Homo sapiens: one gene and its partner. The protein of the gene in region 1 purifies or fractionates together with the protein of each later gene. This does not show direct contact. Each region holds a gene or a part of one and is shown in the gene's direction. Other genes may lie near its edges. The genes, in order: SFMBT2 and CASZ1.

Region 1 (3,811 bases):
GCGGATGTACAGTTGATTACAAAGAACATTCCACAGGGTTCTCGAAGGGCCCAAGTTTTTCCTTCTGGTGGGGAGGAGGGAGGAGCCGAGACTGGGCAGGAGCCCGGCCGACCACCGCTCTGGCACCTAGGGGCTCGGGGCGCACCAGTAGCTGGGGCTGGGGACCTGGATGCGCGAAAAGCCGAGGGAGTTCCCGGGGACGCGGATGGGGACCATTCGGGGCAATAGCCACGGACACCGGTGCTCGTGGTTGATGGCGTTTGTGGTGTCCGAGAATCCCGGGACGACGCTGGAAAGCCTGGGAGACCGTTCTCAAACTTCTGGAGACCAGCTCGCAGTTTCGCTTTCGGAATTTTCAGGATCTTTGGGCCTTTAAAGTTGGGTGGGATTCCAAGAAGGCAAGGCGAGGCTCGTGGCCCTGACGATCGGCCGCCCGACTTCTCGCTCACCCCAGCCTTCTCTACCTTGTCTCCCTGAACCTTGCCGAACCGAGCCGGGTTTGGGGTTCCGGGGCCCCGCGCACCAACCCCAGCCGCGTCCTGAGGGCTCCCGCAGCACAGCCGCGGCTGATCCGAGGCCATTGGTGGGAAACCAATTTAGACGAGGCCGACCCCTCTTGGATCTGGCTCGGTTGCCGCTGCCCACCACTCTCCATCCCCCCTCCACTCTTGCACCGTAGAGAAGGGAACTGGGAGACCTACTAGCGTGTCTACACCAAGGGAAAGAACCCATGTTCCAGCAGGTCGGAGAAAAGGAGAAAACAGGCTTAAATGTGGCCTCGTTTCCTGGGGAGGCTGTTGGGGGTGGGGAGGGAGTTGAGCGGGTAAGTGGGGTGGGGGAGGGGAGAGGCGTTGTTGCTCAGCAGGAATTGTTCCCTAGGCCCGCCCTGGAGATAGGAGGTCTCCTGCTTTTTCCCTACTAAGCATTAAATTTGCACACACTCTGCTTTCTCCCTTCCATAAATAAATACCGTCTCAGATCTTATCTTTGCTCTTGCTGGGACCAAGCTGCCTGCCTGCAAGAGAGTGGGAGACACCCACGCACTTCTCCACTTCCCTCCCCCCCCGCCAACCCTCTAGGTCCCCACCAAAGAGTTTACTGCTTGCAGGACCCATTCTTGGGCCGGTGCAGAACACTGCCCCGAGCCGGGGGTCTCGCAGCCCCCATCCTGGAATAGAGAGTGGTCATCCACTCTGTTCTGATGTGTGTTGCTGTAGAAGTGCCGGTGGAGGCCTGCTGAGGTGGGAACTGTTTCCCATTTCCCATTGGGATACATCCATCCTGAACCTCAAACAGCAGGTCCTGCTGGAGATGCGTTTCAGTAATGATGGAAGTCATACATCGCAGAGTTTTTCCTCTTCCTGCGTTCTTGCAGACATTATAGACTATTTTTTTTAACATTGGTTGTTATAAATAACTGGCTTCACGATTCTTGACTTAAAAGTCAAGACTTTTAAAAAGCCAGAAAAGGTTCCTGACTCTTCCCTGTTTCGTTTTCATCATAAAGCTTTCCTGGGAGTACTAAACACTTATCCATTTTTCCATTGCTGCCCACTCTAGCTAAGGTGGCTTTTTTTTTTTTTTTTAACCACTGCCCCCAAAGGACTCCCACATTTGAGAAGAAATAGTGAGCGATGGAAGCATTGCTTTGAGCAGTAAGAAAATGAGGTTCTATGTAATTGATACAGGATACTTTTGGGATCTAAGAAGTCCGTAAAGGAAATTTACTCTCCCCAGGCCCTACACTTATGCCTAAAAATTTTTGTCAGATTATCAGAGTTTTCTTTTTCTTTTTCTTTTTTTAAATAATTTGAACAAAAATAGTTCACTGTGGGATTTGAATGACCTACAGTTCTAGTATACTAGGGTTGGACATTTCTCTCTTTATATTTTATTACTCTGTACTTTTGAGGTTCATGGGTGCAGTGGTCAGAAGGAAATTTTACTCTGCCCTAAAGTAAGAAGTCATAAAGGTTTTTGTACCAAAATGGCATTGGGACCTGTAATTCAGGATGCATTTTGTGGTTTTTCTAACCATTCTTATATCTATGTTGCCTCAGCAGCAACTTATTGCCCCCATCATACAAATTAAAAAAAAAAAAAAGTTGGGAAATTATGCGTCACAACAAACCAGGAAGTCAATGTGTGTATTCAGTTTGGTGATCCAGGATGTGTTAACACTAGCTGCTAAGGAAGATTCCTGACAGAGAGAGCGGGGGTCGGGGGGGGAATCGGGCCTAGTGTGTAGGTGGACATGGTTCTGTTCAGCTGTGGGATCTGGGACAAGTGAGTCATCTTTCTCAGCCTCAACCTCCTTATCTACAAAATAAAGGTGCTAGCCTGGAATGTCACTCAATGATCACTGTGCTTCTATCTGGGAAAAATACATCTGTGATTCAGTACATCTATGCAGATAGGCCCAAGAGATTCATCTTTCATACTCATGTTCCCCTAAAGGATAATGAAAACCTGACTGGCCTTAGGTGACATCCATGTGCAACCGTGCTTGTGAAGGCAGCAGCTGAGCTGTGGGTCCCTGCTGCAGAGTAAAGTGCTATTGTTAAGTGAGGTAAGCTCCACATGGGGTCGTGTTTTCATCTGTGCTCTGGAAAAGGCGAAGGGTAGAGAAGATGGAGGCTTATACATATGTGGCCTTCCCACATAACCCCATAAAGGTATGGACTGGGTTAGAGCAGTGTGCCTTTGAATACAAGCCATGAGGAAACACCTGATGTCATCTTGTTCTAATAATTTCCAGGCTCAAAGAGACTCTTCCAGATAGCACAGTGTACCCCACCATTCCAGATGGGAGGGTGCTTGGACCTCATGGGTCCATGTTTATGATATGGATGATGATTGCAGCCTTCTGGTAGCCAGCAAGTGAGTGTGAGCATCCACTCTGAAGTTCAAGGTTTTCCGTTCCTAGGGTTCAGGTTTGGCCGCTGGGCAGGTCTTCCTCTCTTTGTTAGACTAAAAATTTCTGGGACAATTCCTAAGAAAAATACTCTCGTTGGCTAAAACAAGTGTTGGCTCTATGTTTAAGTCAAGTGTAAATAAGATGTTTACAAGACTGTAAGACTGTATTGTAAGGAAGGGAAGATAGTCTGCTTAGAACTTTTAGTATAAGAAAGAATGTGTCACATGATTCATGTAATGTTTCCAAGTAAAATCCTTCAGGATTGGTTTTGCATGATCAGTTCATCACTGTGCTGATGAGAAGATGCCACCTTAACACTTCCCATCTGGTTGGCCTGTAGTAAATTTTAAAAAGCAAAAGCGGTAATATGTCAATATGCACTGATGGTTAGGGTCTCTCAGGTTATTGATGAGATGACACGTCTAGGCTTCCATTCATGTGATGAGATAGATGTCTTTGACATTGATTAAAGAAAGAATCCATTGCGTTTTTCTGTTTCATTCCTTTCTCATTTTCTGAAAAGCAAAAATGACACATTTTGATAGATCCAGGGCTTCCTAAGCATTTGGTGACTTCTGCAAAGTAGGACAAATAATGTTAGCAACTGTGATTAGACAGGAAGTGTATGGAGGTGTGGGACATGGGGGAGAAGCGGCAGGTTTTCATCTTGTGAGTTTTTCCCTGTAGTTTTATTGGCCAAGAAAAAGATGTCTTATAAACAGATATTAAGGTATGCCTTCCCTGCTTTCTGCCAAACTTGGCAAGTTGTTTTCTTTCCCCTCCATTTCAATCAACACTACTATATGAACTGAATACTTTAAGGTATGATACAAGAGTGTGGAATTCCAACTCTAGGTTCCTACAAAGTCTTGTTTTAGGTATAACTTAAATGAG
Region 2 (3,811 bases), on another chromosome or scaffold:
ACGACCTTGTTGACTTCTCCGCCCTGAGCAGCAAGAACTCCAGCCTGAGCGCCTCCCCTACCAGCCAGCAGTCCTCTGCGTCCCTGGCTGCCGCCACTGCCGCCACCGAGGCTGGGCCCAGTGCCACCAAACCTCCCAACAGCAAGATCTCGGGGCTGCTGCCCCAGGGCCTGCCTGGCTCAATCCCCCTGGCCCTGGCCCTCTCCAACTCGGGCCTGCCCACCCCCACGCCCTACTTCCCCATACTGGCTGGCCGTGGGAGCACCTCCCTGCCTGTGGGCACCCCCAGCCTCCTGGGTGCCGTGTCGTCTGGGTCAGCAGCCTCAGCCACCCCTGACACACCCACGCTGGTCGCCTCGGGAGCTGGAGACTCAGCCCCCGTGGCTGCCGCCTCTGTCCCGGCACCACCCGCCTCCATCATGGAGAGGATCTCTGCAAGCAAGGGCCTCATCTCGCCCATGATGGCCAGGCTGGCTGCAGCTGCCCTCAAGCCCTCTGCCACCTTTGACCCAGGTGAGCAGGCTGGGTCCTGCCCAGAAAGCAGGCACCTTCTGGACTGGGGTGGCCACCTGGCCTCAGGCTGCAGAGCAGAGTCGGGGGGTGTTTGGAAGAAGTGTCCGTGTGGCCCCTGCTTGCCAGCACCCCCTCTTTGCCTGATCTTCGCCCCCATCCTGTTGGTTTCTATGTGGGGCCCCTGGTTCTGGCTCCCCACAGTAGGGGGGCCATGCTTCTGTTTCCCCATCTGTGAGCTGGGGGCGATGGTCCCTGCCTCCTCGGCTGCCCTGCATCCCTGGGGCCACTGCAGGTCCCCCCTCCCTGTCTGCTCACCCTCCCACATCCCAAGTCCACCCTGATAAGAGCAGGCCCAGGGCCCCTGGCGTGCCGAGCGTTTCCTCCAGCTGACCTGGAGCAGGGCCTGCGTCCAGCCCAGCGGTAGTGGGGCTGCACCTCACACCTGGACACCTCCAGGCCCAGGGACGCCCTTCCCAGGCTCCCTCCTCCATGAGTGCCATTGCAGTAGGACTTTCCAGGCCTTGGAAGCCTTCTATTCTGCAGTGTTTGACTTGGCAGCCACTGGCCACGTGTGACTGTTGGTGCTTGAAGCTGGGTCTGTGATTGGGAAGCGGGATTGTCACTTTAAACAACCACACTTGGCCAGGGACTGCCACGTCAGACAGAAAAGGGCCAGAGCCCCGGAGTTGCATCTTCCTTCTTCACGCTGGTTCACTGAGGGGCGCAGTTCTCTTTCCTGCCTTCCTATAATTTCATAAATATCCATTTTAAAAAAATTTCCCTCCATTTTTCTCTGGATTGGGGTGAGGGTGTTTTCTGTTTACCTCACTCCTCTCCCAGTTTCCCTGCTCTGGGTAGTTCCTATTTGTTGAATCCTTGAGGAGAGTTCCGTTCACATCTGGGATGTGGCTCATTTCACTTATTCATTCAACAACCACTGATGCTTGCTGAGAGCCAGGCTCCAAGCCGGGTGCTGGGGACACAGCAGGCGGGACGCCAGACAGAGCCCCACGCCGTGGAGCCAGCAGACGGTCAGGGATGGTCTGTCCCGGGCACATGGCTAGGAAGTGGTGAACCAAGGCGCTGCCCGCAGGAGTGGGGCTCCTGGGCCTAGATGCCCTGTTCCCATTCGAAACCCTCTCAGAACCAGCCAAGACTGAGGGTCCCTGTGGCCCAGTCTGGGGCTCTGCCCACACCTTGCAGAGGCTGCCAGTGCTTGGCAGGGGAGCTGGGCCGTTTTCCTGGGACCTTGGGCAGGTGACTTTGGAGAGCTGCTGGAATGTGAAGTCCCAAGGTCTGAAAACTCTCACAGGCCCAATAGGACGCTCATGCCCGGTGGCCGCGTGGAGGGACCGCCTCCTGGTCCAGGCATGGGTGGGGCCTCGCTGGCCACGCCCTTCCAGCCAGGTGCCTGATGGATGGGGCAGGGCCCACTCCAGGGCCACGTGGGCTCGGTGGCCAGACTGTCAAGTACTTTGTTTTCATTAGAAAAGTCTCCTTCTCCCAAAAGAAAGATCAAGCACAGGGGAGGGGGCCGTTTTATTTTTTAATAAAATGCCACTTGCTGTTTCTGAAGCAGCACTCTGTCAGCTACAGCACCTTGGGGCAAATTCATATTTCCGTCACTGGGGGATTGTAGGGGAAAGCTCGCTGGATGGCCCTGTCAGCAACTTCTTTTACCCCTGCTCTGCTGGCCTCCTGCGGCCTCACCCGCCCAGCTCCCTTCCGGACCCAGCTCGGCCCAGCCTGGCCTCGTGTCCCTGCCCCGGATAGCTTGACTGCGAGGTCACCCGGTGTGGCCGCTCTGATTGGCCATCGGCCCCATCGCCCTGACACAGCAGAGGCCCTTCCTGGGCATGCTCCGTGCGGGGGCCGTCACCCCAGCAACCGCGGGCTGGGGACCACAGAGGGGCCCTCCCAGTCCAGATCTGCCACTTTCCCTCAGCATTAACAGAGTCTTTAATAAAAGCCTAAGCGGCAGCCCCACAAATCGACTGTGACAGTTGGTGGAGAAAATGAAGGGCCCCCGCCCCCACCCCAGCCCCCTCCCCAGCCTCCCGCCCTTCTCCTCCAGGAGGCCCTGAGCCAGGACAACTTTGACATAATTTTGCAATAATTATCACTTGAAGAATTGCCACACAGGAGCGAGCGTCGCGAGCGATCACGTCAGCGGGAGAAGCGCTGACCAGTAGCCGGGGCCCACCCAGCCCACTGCCCTCCCTCCAGGGGGCACGGCGGCTGTCTGTGCCCGGGCCAGGCCTTCAGCCCCTCTGACGCATCTTCCCACCCCTCCCCTGCAGGAAGCGGGCAGCAGGTCACCCCAGCCAGGTTCCCCCCGGCCCAAGTGAAGCCGGAACCCGGTGAGAGCACCGGCGCCCCAGGCCCCCACGAAGCCTCCCAGGACCGCAGTCTAGACCTGACTGTGAAGGAGCCCAGGTGAGGCGAGGCCCCCTATGGGAGCCAGCCCCGGGAACCACACCTTCGAGCTGGAGCCCCGGGGTGGTCCCGCCCAGGCAGTTGCAGCGGGCTCGGCTGGAGCCCCAGGGTCGGGCAGGGAAGGTGAGCCCCAGGGCCCAGGCCCCGGCCGTCTGAGCTCAAGTCCCTTGGTTTGTGTGTTCTAGCAACGAATCAAATGGCCACGCAGTCCCGGCAAATTCATCTCTTTTATCCTCGCTTATGAATAAGGTAAGAGCCATCCATCACACGCCTCCCGTTCCCCCACCCAGAGAAATTAAAGCTGTGCTGGGGGGTGGGGGGATGTGTTTGTTTTTTAATGTTTTGCCTCTAATAAGATGAGTTTGTACCATTTAAATTTTGAGGCCATTTTTCATCGGATATAATTTCAGAGCCACTGCTTACAAATTAATTTAATGAACTGGCTGAAGAAATATATTCCAGCCTCTGACACCTTTTTTTCCCTTCAGATGGAGGGCTCCAAAAGCTTTTCCAGAGCCCTTCAACTTCGTTCGTGCCTCGTTATTAATTTTATTTATTTATTTTATATATATTTTTTGTTTGTTTAAAAGGGGATGGGGGAGGGGGGACTAAAGTGGGAGCAAAACATCAATTTCCACTTTTCCGGTTGAGTAATGGTCTCGGACGCCTTCCGGAGAGGTCGCTCCGGAATATTTATTTTAAATAATGCAGGGTCTTTGTAAATTATACATCATCTCAAATACATTTTTCCCCTTCACATGATACATTTGACTACAGCAAGATTAATTCGGTTACTGTACACAAGTGACTGCCCTGAGGAGGGGCCGGGCCCGGGCCGGACCTCTCGCCGCAGGGCCCCAGC

The links.
Region 2: the proteins of SFMBT2 (region 1) and CASZ1 purify together in Homo sapiens (affinity purification with mass spectrometry; one large-scale study listed by BioGRID and IntAct). This does not show direct contact.

The regions. Positions count from the first base shown.
Region 1 is NC_000010.11:7,404,241-7,408,051, reverse strand, and holds part of SFMBT2 (scm-like with four MBT domains protein 2), read left to right. Parts: intron 1-2,305; exon of another isoform or gene 2,306-2,569; intron 2,570-3,811.
Region 2 is NC_000001.11:10,650,079-10,653,889, reverse strand, and holds part of CASZ1 (zinc finger protein castor homolog 1), read left to right. Parts: coding exon 1-513; intron 514-2,813; coding exon 2,814-2,949; intron 2,950-3,134; coding exon 3,135-3,198; intron 3,199-3,811. UniProt on the Homo sapiens protein: Transcriptional activator. Involved in vascular assembly and morphogenesis through direct transcriptional regulation of EGFL7.